2 separate regions of the Homo sapiens genome follow, and region 1 is linked to region 2. The links come from fine-mapping of genetic effects on gene expression. Tissue or cell type: neutrophils. Region 2 holds a variant in brackets; the other region holds the start of a gene. All regions are shown on one strand. Distances are between the middles of the regions.

The links. PIP is the estimated chance that this variant, and not a neighbour inherited with it, causes the effect. A credible set is the group of variants that fine-mapping cannot tell apart.
Region 1: it holds the start of TMEM150B, and the variant in region 2 is the best candidate, but not a certain one, in a credible set for the expression of TMEM150B in neutrophils (BLUEPRINT, PIP 0.66).

Annotation. Positions count from the first base shown.
Region 1 is chr19:55,322,548-55,328,300 of GRCh38, reverse strand. It overlaps TMEM150B (transmembrane protein 150B), which reads left to right and starts at 2,960. Exons shown (of 8, transcript NM_001282011.2): 1 at 2,960-3,029; 2 at 5,558-5,653.
Region 2 is chr19:55,240,862-55,247,415 of GRCh38, reverse strand. PPP6R1 (protein phosphatase 6 regulatory subunit 1) reads left to right here. Exons shown (of 24, transcript NM_014931.4): 2 at 307-539; 3 at 1,738-1,924; 4 at 2,014-2,151; 5 at 2,231-2,296; 6 at 4,928-5,040; 7 at 5,137-5,250; 8 at 5,777-5,939; 9 at 6,025-6,177; 10 at 6,337-6,471. The coding sequence starts at 313. MIR6803 (microRNA 6803) reads left to right here and starts at 2,166; the gene lies at 2,166-2,230. The variant T/C (reference allele first, on the strand shown) is at 4,174.

The sequences.
Region 1 (5,753 bases), 81 kb before region 2:
GAATGTAAAATGGTGTAAATCGTGTACACATGGCGGAAAGTAGTTTAGCAGTTCCTAAAAATGTTACTATACAACCCAGTAATTCTACTTCTAGGTAGAATGGTGGCAGGTGCCTGTAACCCCAGCTACTCGGGAGGCTGAGGCAGGAGAATTGCTAGAACCCGGGAGGCAGAGGTTGTAGTGAGCCGAGATCGCGCCACTGCACTCCAGCCTGGGCAACAAGAGCAAAAGTCCATCTCAAAAAAAAAAAAAAAAAAGAACATATGAGCAAATGGCTGGCCGGATAGGCAGGTGGGTGGATGAGTGGAGAAATAACTAGCTGGAGGAATGCACAAAGGCATGAACATATGCACAGATAAATGGATGTTTCAGGAGAAGGTTGGATGGGTGAAGATAAGGAGGGATATTCAAGGGCATTGCATGGCACATAGGAAGGAACCAAACTTTACAGCCAGACAGACCCAAGCTGCTCCACTCGGTAGCTGAGTGACATTGGGCAAGTACGGTAGCCAGGTGGCTCACCCTTCCTGAAAGAACTTGATTAGCAGGGAGGACTTCAGCTGGTCTCCAGCCTCCAGCAGTAGCACCTTCAGCAGTGTTTGATTTGGATTGCTATTACATTCTTTTTATGCAGCCTTGACCGATGACTAAGCATGGGGTGGGGAGCAGAGCCTGGCCGTTTCTGCCCAATGTGGACACCTCTAAAGTCAATGTGCTAAAGTGTTTATTTATTTATTTATTAAATTTAACTTTTTGGCCAGGCGCGGTGGCTCTCACCTGTAATCCCAACACTTTGGGAGGCCGAGGCGGGCGGATCACGAGGTCAGGAGATCAAGACCATCCTGAATAACACAGTGGAACCTCATCTCTACTAAACATACAAAAAAAAAAAAAAAAAAATTAGCCGGGCGTGGTGGCGGGCGCCTTTAGTCCCAGCTACTCGGGAGGCTGAGGCAGGAGAATCCTTTGAACCCGGGAGGCGGAGCTTGCAGTGAGCCGAGATCGCGTCACTGCACTCCAGCCTGGGCCAAAGAGCGAGACTCCGTCTCAAAAAAAAAAAAAAAAAGTTAAATTTAATTTTTAAATTATTTATTTATTTATTTATTTATGTATTTATTTATTTATTTTTTGGGACGGAGTCTCGCTCTGTCGCCCAGGCTGGAGTGCGGCGACGCGATCTCGGCTCACTGCAACTGCCGCCTCCCGGGTTCCCGCCGTTCTCCTGCCTCAACCTCCCGGGTAGCTGGGACCACAGGCGCCCGCCACCACGCCCGGCTAATTTTTTTGTATTTTTAGTAGAGATGGGGTTTCACCATGTTAGCCAGGATGGTGTTGATCTCCTGACCTCGTGATCCGCCCGCCTCGGCCTCCCAAAGTGCTGGGATGACAGGCGTGAGCCACGGCGCCCGGCCCACTCTAAGCATTTTAAAGTATAATTCGGTGTCGTCTAGCACAGTCCCAATGTTGTGCAACCTTCGTCTCTATCTAGTTCCAAAACAGTTTCATAACCCCCATAAGGAAACTCCAAATAAGCAATCATTTCCCATCCTCCCCTCTTCCCACCCCTTGCAACCACTGACTTGCTTTCGGTCTCCATGGACTTGCGTATGGGTGATCTTTGCACCACATTTCCCAGCTGACCTGACCGGGGTTCTCAGAACTGCACATGGTCTGTGATTCTTCCACTCTCCCCATCTCCTTTCTCCAGTGTCAGACCCAGACCCACTCACGTTGCAGTCTGAAGTCTCTCCCAGCCACTCCTGGTCTTTCTCCTCCTTTTTCTTTTTTTCTTTTTTTTTTTGTATTTTTAGTAGAGACGGGGTTTCACCATATTGGCCAGGCTGGTCTTGAACTCCTGACCTCGTGATCCGCCTGCCTTGGCCTCCCAAAGTGCTGGGATTACAGGCTTAAGCCACCGCGCCTGGCCTTTCTCCTCCTTTATCCTTCAGCAACCTCATCCCCAGTCAATCTCTTGCTTTTCTTTTCTTTCTTTCTTTTTTGTTTTTTTGAGAGGGAGTTTCGCTCTTGTCGTCCGGGCTGGAGTGTAGTGGCACAATCTCGACTCACTGCAACCTCCACTTCCTGGATTCAAGCGATTCTCCGGCCTCAGCCTCTTGAGTAGCTGGGATTACAGGCGCCCGCCACCATGCCCAGCTAATTTTTGTATTTTTAGTAGAAACGGGGTTTCGCCATATTGGCCAGGCTGGTCTCGAACTCATGACCTCAGGTGATCCACCCGCCTCAGCCTCCCAAAATGCTGGGATTACAGGCGTGAGCCACCGGGCCCGGTCAGACAGGCATTCTTTTAGGGTCTTATGTGGATAACCCCAATAAACCCTCACAATTGCACGAGGGCAGACCATCATGATCCCTGTTTTGCAGACAAGAAAACAGAGGTCCGAGACCCATCTATCTCTAGAGGTGTACATCCCCTCCCTGGGGAAGGTTCTGAGACCTCTGTGTTCCTAGACGTCTACATCCCCTCTCTGGGGAAACTTCCAGGCAGGGGACATAGACATCTAGGGATATAAAAATAAAAATAGGCCGGCCGCGGTGGCTCACGCCTGTAATCCTAGCACTTGGGAGGCCGAGGCGGGTGGAACACCGGATGTCAGGAGTTTGGGACTAGCCTGACCGACATGGAGAAACCCTGTTTCTACTAAAAAAATACAAAATTAGCCGGGTGTGGTGGTGCATGACTGTAATTCCAGCTACTTGGGAGGCTGAGCAGGAGAATCGCTTGAACCCGGGGGCAGAGGTTGCGGTCAGCTGAGATCGCGCCATTGCACTCCAGCCTGGGCAACAAGAGCGAAACTCCGTCTCAAAAATAAAAAATAAAATAAAAAAATAAAAATAAAAATAAAAACCAGTCCCCACCACCAACCACAAGCGGTTTCCTCAATATGAAAGTGCAACGTCATCTTTCTCAGAGGAAAAGCACAGCCTCTTCCCCTCGGCTGAGCCAGGCCAGCAGCCCTAGCTTCTGGAAGGATCCTTCAGGCTCCAGACACCCAACCTACCCGTGGCCGGTGAGTGGGGCCTAATTCCCAACTTGAAAGTAGCTCGGCAGGCTGGAGCCCTGTCCCCTGTCCTCCCAGGGAGGGTCCAAGCAGGTCACATAAGCACCGTGGGGACACCAGTGAGCCAAACTCATCTTTGTGCCAGGACACCGAGTTGGGTATGGAGGCTCAGAGCGGGGACAAGTCTTCCTTAGGATCACCTGGGCTTTCTCGTCTTTATTATTATTATGTTTTTGGAAGAGAAGTGGGAATCAGCCAGGTGGCAAACACAGGACAGGGCAGGGCAGGAGATCAGTGTTGAGGGCCGACGGAGGAGCAGGTAGCATGGACCCCTCCCTCCCCTGGGCTCCCTCATAGCTTTGTGTGACTTCCTTTAGAGGAGCTGTCACCTGCTGATCATCTGTGTTGCCCACAGACAGGGATTCCCCTGAGGGCAGGGGGTGGCTCAGATTCATGTCTGGGCAAACGGAGACCTCCGGAAAAAGAAGCGAAAGGAGGAAGACGAGACCCAGAGGAGAGGCATTTGGCAGCAGAAGGGGTGAGGAGGACTTGGAGAGCTTTGCCCTCTATCAGCCCCACTGGGACAGGATTTATTTTTTATTTTATTTATTTATTTTATTTTATTTATTTTTGGAGACGGAGTCTCACTCTGTCGCCCAGGCTGGAATGCAGTGGTGCGATCTCGGCTCACTGCAACCTCCGCCTCCTGGGTTCAAGCGATTCTCCTGCCTCAGCCTCCCGAGTAGCTGGGATTACAGGTGCCTGCCACCACACCCGGCTAATTTTTGTATTTTTAGTAGAGACGGGGTTTCACTATGTTGGCCAGGCTGGTCTCAAACTCCTGATCTCATGATCTGCCCACCTCGGCCTCCCAAAGTGCTGGGATTGCAGGCGTGAGCCACCATGCCCGGCCACCCAGCTAATTTTTTTTTGTATTTTTAGTAGAGACAGGTTTTCACCATGTTGGCCAGGCTGGTCTCGATCTCCTGACCTCAGGTGATCCACCTGCCTCAGCCTCCCAAAGTGCTGGGACTACAGGCGTCAGCCACCTTGCCCAGCCGACCCTGGCTGTTTAAAAAATAAAAATAAAAAATAAAGGAATGAAACACTAATACATGCCACAACATGGATGAATCTCAAAAACATTACACTGAGCATAAAATACACCAGACGGGTTGGGCGCGATGGCTTCCGCCTGTAATCCCAGCACTTTGGGAGGCTGAGGCAGGGGGATCACTTGAGGTCAGCATTTTGAGGCCAGCCTGGCCAACATGGTGAAACTCTGTCTTTATCAAAAAATGCAAAAATTAGCCAGGCATAGTGGCGGGCACCTGTAATCCCAGCTACTTGGGAGGCTGAGGCATGAGAATCACTTGAACCCAGGAGGTGGAGGTCCCAGTGAGCCAAGATTGTGCCACTGCACTCCAGCCTGGGCAACAGAGGGAGACTCTGTTTCAGAAAAAAAAAAAAAAAAAAAAGGTTGGGCGCAGTGTCTCACGCCTGTAATCCCAGCACTTTGGGAGCCTGAGGCGGGTGGATCACCTGAGGTTGGGAGTTCGAGACCAGCCTGGCCAACATGGTGAAACCCCATCTCTACTAAAAATACAAAAATTAGCCAGGCATGGTGGCACCGGCCTGTAATCCCAGCTCCTCAGGAGGCTGAGGCAGGAGAATCACTTGAACCCGGGAAGCAGAGGTTGCAGTGAGCCGAAATTGCGCCACTGCACTCCAATCTGGGTGACAGAGGGAGACTCTGTCTCAAAAAAAAAAAAAGAAAGAGGCGATGGTTGCATAACATTGGGAGTGCACTAATGTCGCTGAGTCGCACATTTTTTTTTTCTTTTTTCTGAGACAGAGTTTTGCTCTTGTCACCCAGGCTGGAGTCCAATGGCATGATCTGGACTGACTGCAACTTCTGCTTCCCAGGTTCAAGGGATTCTCCTGCCTCAGCCTCCGGAGTAGCTGGGATTACAGGCTCCCGCCACCACACCCAGCTAATTTTTGCATTTTTAGTAGAGATGGGGTTTCACCATGTTGGCCAGGCTAGTCTCAAACACCTGACTCCAGATGATCTGCCCACCTTGGTCTCCCAAACTGCTGGGATTACAGGCGTGAGCCGCCGTGCCTGGCCGAGTCGTACACTTTAAAATGGCTAATGTTATGTGGATTTTATGTCCATTAAAAGACACGAGGTGGCATAGTGAGAGAGGAGGTGGCTGGGACTTCTGTGTCTAAGGGAAGAGTTCTGGGGGCCTGGACTCCTGCATTTTGGGGAAGGAGGAAGGAGTTGGAGCTTGGACTCCTGGGTCCCCAAGGGTGGAGGCTCCGATCTGAGTCCAGGGGAGGATAGGGCTGAGAGTTTGGATGTTGAATACACAAAGCTGGAGGAAGGAAATTAGGGTCCCCCAAAGCTACGGTGCTGCCTGTGAGGTTCTAAGGAGACAGGACACGGTGGTTTGGGGACAGAGAGCCGTTAGGAAGTGGCAGTCAGACCAAAGGACCCAGGCAGTCCTGCAGCCTGGACTTTGCCTCTGCAGGATGTCTGCCTGAGCCCCACCCCGAATGCCAGCCCTTCTTCCCTGAGCTCACCCAGCCCCAGCTCCAGGACTGAGAGCCCCAGGAAGCTTGGAGAGGTGAGCATCCTGGGGAGGCCCTGGAGGCTGGGAGGTGCACGGAGGGGCTGGGAGGGCAGGGAGAAACTCCCCAAGCAGGAGAATGTGTGAGCTAGGACTG
Region 2 (6,554 bases):
CTCAGGTGTGAAATGACCCCCTGGACCTCAGGCGAGGCGGCCGGGAGGCTGGAGATGGGGGAAGAGGGGCAGGCTCGAGGGCAACTGCAGGAGCCTGGTGCTCACTGGGAGCCTTAAGCCTGAGTGATGGAGGCAGTGAGCCTGCGGGCAGTCCCGGGGCGGGGCCGGGCTCAGCATGAGGCAGAGGGCTGGGACTTGGGGAGAGGCTGTGCCCAAGGTGGGCACTCAGCCCCTGTGGTCAGTGCCTCGTCCAGTGGGGACTCCCTGGGGCGTCTGACGCGGCGCTGGTTGTGTCTATGCCTGCAGGGCGCCATGTTTTGGAAGTTTGACCTGCACACAAGCTCGCACCTGGACACGCTGCTGGAGCGGGAGGACCTGAGCCTGCCCGAGCTGCTGGACGAGGAAGACGTGCTGCAGGAGTGCAAGGTCGTCAACCGCAAGCTGCTGGACTTCCTGCTGCAGCCACCCCACCTGCAAGCAATGGTGGCCTGGGTCACCCAGGAGCCGCCAGATAGCGGTGAGGAGCGGCTGCGCTACAAGTGAGTTCCCCAGCTCCTGGCCAGCCCGTCCCTATCAGCATCACACATACCTTCACTACGCAAGCCTCACAGCTACCCTGAAATGCGTCAGTGTCAGTAAACTCCAGTTTGGGGATGAGGAAGACGAGGCTGGGAGCAGCCAGGCTCCTGCACAAGGCCTCACAGCTCACCGGGTGCAGACCAAGCCTGTGCTCTGGAGGGCAGTGGCACAGTCACGGGTCACGGCAGCCACAAATTCACGGGCCCAGGTGATCCTCCCGCCTCAGTTGCCCGAGTAGCTGGGACCACAGGCATGTGACGACATGCCCGGCTGGTTTTTCTCTTTATTCGCCGCCTTTTATTTTATTTACTTTTTATTAAACTTTTTTTGTATGTTTGTGAAACACTTGTCTGCTATTGAAGACACTTTACTTATTTTTTAATCCAAGCGATGCTGAAAAGACACTTTTTTTTTTTTTTTTGAGACTCACTTTATCACCAGGTTGGAGTGCAGAGGCATGATCGGCTCACTGCAACCTCCTCCTCCCAAGTTCAAGTGATTCTCCTGCCTCACCCTCCTAAGTAGCTGGGACTATAAGCCAGCACGCCCAGCTAATTTTTGTATTTTTGGTAGAGACAGGGTTTCGCCATGTTGCCCAGGCTGGTCTTGAACTTCTGACCTCAAGTGATATGCCTGCCTCAGCCTCCCAAGGGGTACCTCCCCACAGTCCTGGAGCAGACTGTGGCCCCTCAGGGCCTTGAGTGGCACGCTGGTGGGGCAGCTCTTGTCTTGGAGCCGTCAGGCACCGTGTGAAAGTTTGGAGGAGGGAGGCAGGAGGTGAGGTTGGAAGTTGAGCAAGGTTCCAGGAGTCAGCCGGAGCTGGGGCAGCATACGGGGTTGCAAGTGAAGCCGCTGAGAGGCAAAAGGGATGAGTGTTAGCTGCTGGGGGATTGGGAAGCGCAGGAGCTTCAGGACCAGCTTGTCTTGGGGGTGGTAAGGAGCCTAGGATGGGATGGTTGGGTGTTAGCAGGGTGGAGGAGGCCTGGTGTGGGCCCTTGTTTCTGCGTCACCCTGTCCTCTGCCCTTTCCCCTTCCTGGACAGGGGTCTCTGCAGTTCCCAGAAACCCAGTGCCCGGTGCAGAGAAGAGGGTGGAGCCTTGCCGCCCCCTGCCCCCGGCCTCCGACCCGAGCCCCCACCCGCCTGTGCTTGCCTCCCAGGTACCCCAGTGTGGCCTGCGAGATTCTGACCTCAGATGTGCCCCAGATCAATGATGCCCTGGGTGCTGATGAGTCCCTTCTGAACCGGCTCTACGGCTTCCTGCAGAGCACCGGCAGCCTCAACCCACTGCTGGCCAGCTTCTTCAGCAAGGTCATGGGCATCCTCATCAACCGCAAGACAGACCAGGTGCCCTGGCCCCCACCCTGGCGCCACCGTGGGTTGAGGGGTGGTGGCTGGGCCAGGCCCTGTGCATGACGCAGCCCGTGTGCCCCCAGCTCGTGTCCTTTCTTCGGAAGAAGGATGACTTCGTGGACCTGCTGCTGCAGCACATTGGCACCTCGGCCATCATGGACCTCCTGCTGCGCCTGCTCACCTGTGTGGAGCGGCCTCAGCTGAGGCAGGATGTTGTCAATGTGAGCAGGGCCGGCTCCTCTGGGGGTGGGGGGCTGGGCGTGGTGGACAGCGATGCATCCCTCGCCTTCTCACCCTCAGTGGCTCAACGAGGAGAAGATCGTCCAGCGGCTGATTGAGCAGATCCACCCGTCGAAGGATGAGAATGTGAGTGCTGCCGATGCCCCTGCGGATTCCCCTTAGAGTTCCTTCCCCATGCCCACTTCCCCACTTTTAAAAGAGGAATTGGGGCTGGACGCAGTGGCTCACGCCTGTAATTCCAGCACTTTGGGAGGGCGAGGTGGGAGGATTACTTGAGCCCATGAGTTTGAGACCAGCTTGGGCAACATAGTAACACCCCGTCTCTACGTAAAAACTTAGCTGAGTGTGGTGTTGCACACCTGTAGTCCCAGCTACTTGGGAAGCTCAGGTAGGAGGATTGCTTGAGCCGGGAGGTCAAGGCTATAGTGAGTCATGATCACACCACTGCACTCCAGCCTGGGTGACACAGTGAGACCCTGTCTCAAAAAAAAAAAAAGAAAGAAAAGAAATTGGTGAGAAAAGAGAGCATTGAGAACCAGGTGTATCCATGCCCTTTGAGAAAAGGAAAGAAACTTGACTCAAGTGATTCTCCCACTGTGGCCTCCGAAAGTGCTGGAAAGGTTTTTTTCATGACCCAGGAACTTGGCACATAATGCCTTGCAGGGAGGGGCCCTCCTCATCGCCTGTCCAAGCGCTGGCCCCACATCCGTCCCTGCCCACCCTGGCCTGTGCTATTGCTGGGCCTGGCAGCTTTTTCCCTGTCTCCTGCCTGATTGAACCCCTTGCTGTCCTTCTAAGTGTCCGTCCAGCAGCCTTGCTTTCAAGCGCCCTCACATCCTCCCCTTTAGCTCTGGGGGACCCCATGTCCATGTGTTTCTCCAGCTTGGGTCTCCATCTCTGTCCTGGTGCCCAGCACAGGGCCTAGTGTAGAGTGGGTGTTTGTCAAGAGCCTCAGATATCCGAGGCCACTGGGAGCAACATGTCCTTCCCAATGCCAACTTCTGCCTCAGAGGCGCACAGGCTTACAGAGCAGAGATGGCTCTGGGCTCACCCAGGCTGGGGCCTGTCCCTGTGAGGACCCTGAGGCATGGCCCAGGGCCACACTGCCAAGCCCTGGCAGCTGCCCGTTGGGTAGACTCAGCTCTGCTTATGCTTCTCTCTTTTCTCTCTTTTGTAGCAGCTTTACTGAGATGTAAATTGCACAGCATACCACTCACCCACCGAAGCTTACGATTCAGCGCTTTTAGGGTATTCAAAGCGTTTATCATCTTGTTGAATTTAGATTATTTTTTATCACTCCAAAAAACAAGTCCTGCCTGTAATCCCAGCGCTTTGGCAGGTGAGGCTGGAGGATTGCTTGAGCCCAGGAGTTTGAGACTAGCCTGGGCAACATAGCAAGACGTTGTCGCTACAAAAAATTGAAAAATTAGCTGGCATTGGTGGTGCACACCTGTAATCCTAGCTACTCAAGAGTCTGAGACGGGAGGATCTCTTGGGCCCAGGAGTTCAGGGCTGCAGTGAGCTGTGATGGCACCACTGCGCTCAAGCCTGGGGTGATGTAGAGGCCGTGTCTTTTTTTTGAGACAGTGTCTTGCTCTGTTGCCCAGGCTGGAGTGCAGTGGCGTGATCTTGCCTCACTGTAGCCTTGACCCCCCTGGGCTCAAGCAATCCTCCTGCCTCTGCCTCATGAACAGCTGGAACTAGAGATGCACACCACCATTCTTGGCTAATTTTTTTGTATTTGTAGAGATAGAGTTTTGCTATGTTGCCCCGACTGGTCTCAAACTCCTGGGCTCAAGTGATCCTGCCACCTTGGCCTTTCTTTTTTTTTTTTTTTTTTTGAGATGGAGTCTCGCTCTGTCTAGAGTGCAGTGGCACGATCTCGGCTCACTGCAGCCTCCACCTCCCAGGTTCAAGCGATTCTCCTGCCTCAGCCTCCCGAGTAGCTGGGACTACAGGCGCCTACCACTGCGCCTGGCTAATTTTTTTATTTTTAGTAGAGA[T/C]GGGGTTTCACCATGTTGGCCAGGCTGGTCTCAAACTCCTGACCTCGTGATCCACCTGCCTCGGCCTCCCAAAGTGCTGGGATTACAGGCGTGAGCCACCGCGCCCGGCCCCACCTCGGCCTTTCAGACTGCTGGGATTATAGGCATGTGCCATCACACCCAGCCGAGACCCTTTCTCCAGAAAAAATAAAAAAGATGCCCTGTGTTCATTAGCAGCTCCTCCTGATCTTCCCCTTTCTCTTCTTAGCCCCCGGCAACCACCAGACTATTCTGTCTCTGTGGATTTGTCTTTGGACATTTCATATAATTGGAATCATGTACTACGTGATCTGTGTGTGGTTTCTTTCTCTAGCATGATGTTTTTGTGGCTCATTCATGTGGTTGCATGTATCAGTTTCACTCCTTTTCCTGGCTGATTAGCACTCTCCTGTGTGGATAGACCAGCTTGGGCATATTCACTCATCAGTCAGAGCCTTCTGGGTCATTGTGGGCGGTGCTGCCAGCCCTGTATGCGGTCATGAGGGCCTTGTGTGGATGCCTCCTGTCCTGGGGAGCCTTCCGGGCTTCCTGTTCTCTCCACCATCTTCCCTCCAGCAGTTGGTGCCTCTGTGCCCTCCTCCTTCGTAACACGTGTCCCTGTGTCTGGGTGACCATTTTTCCCTGGATGGTCAGCTCATGGGAGGGGCTCCCAGCACCAGGCTGCAGAGGGCCCGGTGGCCCGACCAGGATCCTCACCTGTCTCTCCCCGTTCCAGCAACATTCCAACGCATCCCAGTCCCTGTGTGACATCATCCGCCTGAGCCGGGAGCAGATGATCCAAGTCCAGGACAGCCCAGAGCCTGACCAACTGCTGGCCACCCTGGAGAAGTGGGTGTGCGGGCAAGGCTAAGGCTGGGGGGAGCTGACTTGGGGAAGCCCTGGGCCCCTGGCCCCTCACCCTGACCCCTGCCCCTGCCCCCGCAGGCAGGAGACGATTGAGCAGCTCTTAAGCAACATGTTCGAGGGGGAGCAGAGCCAGTCTGTCATCGTCAGTGGGATCCAGGTGCTGCTGACCCTGCTGGAGCCCAGGAGGCCGAGGTGAGGGATACGGGCCACAGACCATGCATGCTGCCCATCCCCAGGGGCTCTCCGGCCCCTCAGAGGCGGGTCTCGGTGTCCACCAAGAGAAATCCCCGCCCGTGGCACCTTGCTCTGTGGCTGCCTGTGCTCCCTGCACAGTGGACAGTACGGGGCCGAGGGAGGAATCTTCTTGTCTGCTTTGACAAGTGAGGGCACTGAGGCTGAGGCCACTGCTGCAGCTTGTGTTGGGAGGGACCCCAGGCCCCCGTGCCCCTGCCTTACCACACAGGCCGCTAGCCTGTTGGGTTTGCCTTCCCGCCTCCACCCCTCACCCGTGCTCTCACAGTGGACTGCCAATGCTGCCGCCTGGCGGGCTCCCCACCCCAGCCAGGTGTTGTCTGAAGGGCCTCAGAAGAGAGCGGCGCTGGGGGCATGTGGCTCCTCGTTTTCCTCCAGACCCTGCAGACGTGGTCCTTGTGCCTACTCCTGTGTGGGCGCACAGGCCATCTAGGCTCACTCCGCCTTCGACCCTGCCCTGCTGCAGGTCCGAGTCCGTGACCGTGAACAGCTTCTTCAGCAGTGTGGATGGGCAGCTGGAGCTCCTGGCCCAGGGGGCCCTGGAAAGCACTGTGTCCAGTGTGGGCGCCTTGCACGCCCTACGCCCGCGGCTCAGCTGCTTCCACCAGCTCCTGCTGGAGCCTCCCAAGGTCAGGGGTGTGGGTTCTGGTCCTCGGGGAGGCGGGGGAAGCAGGAAGGGCAGCCCTTGGGAATCAGGCCTCCCTGTGTCTGCAGCTGGAGCCGCTACAGATGACATGGGGCATGCTGGCTCCGCCTCTGGGCAACACGCGGCTGCACGTGGTCAAGCTCCTGGCCAGTGCCCTGAGCGCCAATGATGCAGCCCTGACGCACGAGCTCCTGGCACTGGACGTGCCCAACACCATGCTGGTGCGGGGACTGGACCGGGCTGGGGGTTCAGGGGCTGGGGCGGGGACTGGACTGGGCTGAGGGTTCGGGGGCTGGGGTGGGGGCTCGGCTGGGGGCTCAGGGGTTGGGGGCTCGGCTGGGGCGGGGCCTCTCTGGTACCAATCCTGTGTCCTCCCATAGGACCTCTTCTTCCATTATGTCTTCAACAACTTCTTGCATGCCCAAGTAGAGGGATGCGTGAGCACCATGCTGAGCTTGGGGCCACCTCCTGACAGCAGCCCTGAGACGCCCATCCAAAACCCTGTTGTGAAACATGTGAGCTGGGACTCCCTGGTCCCCCTCCTTCTGGGCCCATCCCCTGTGGGCGCACCCTCTCCAGAGGCCTACCCCTCACTCCT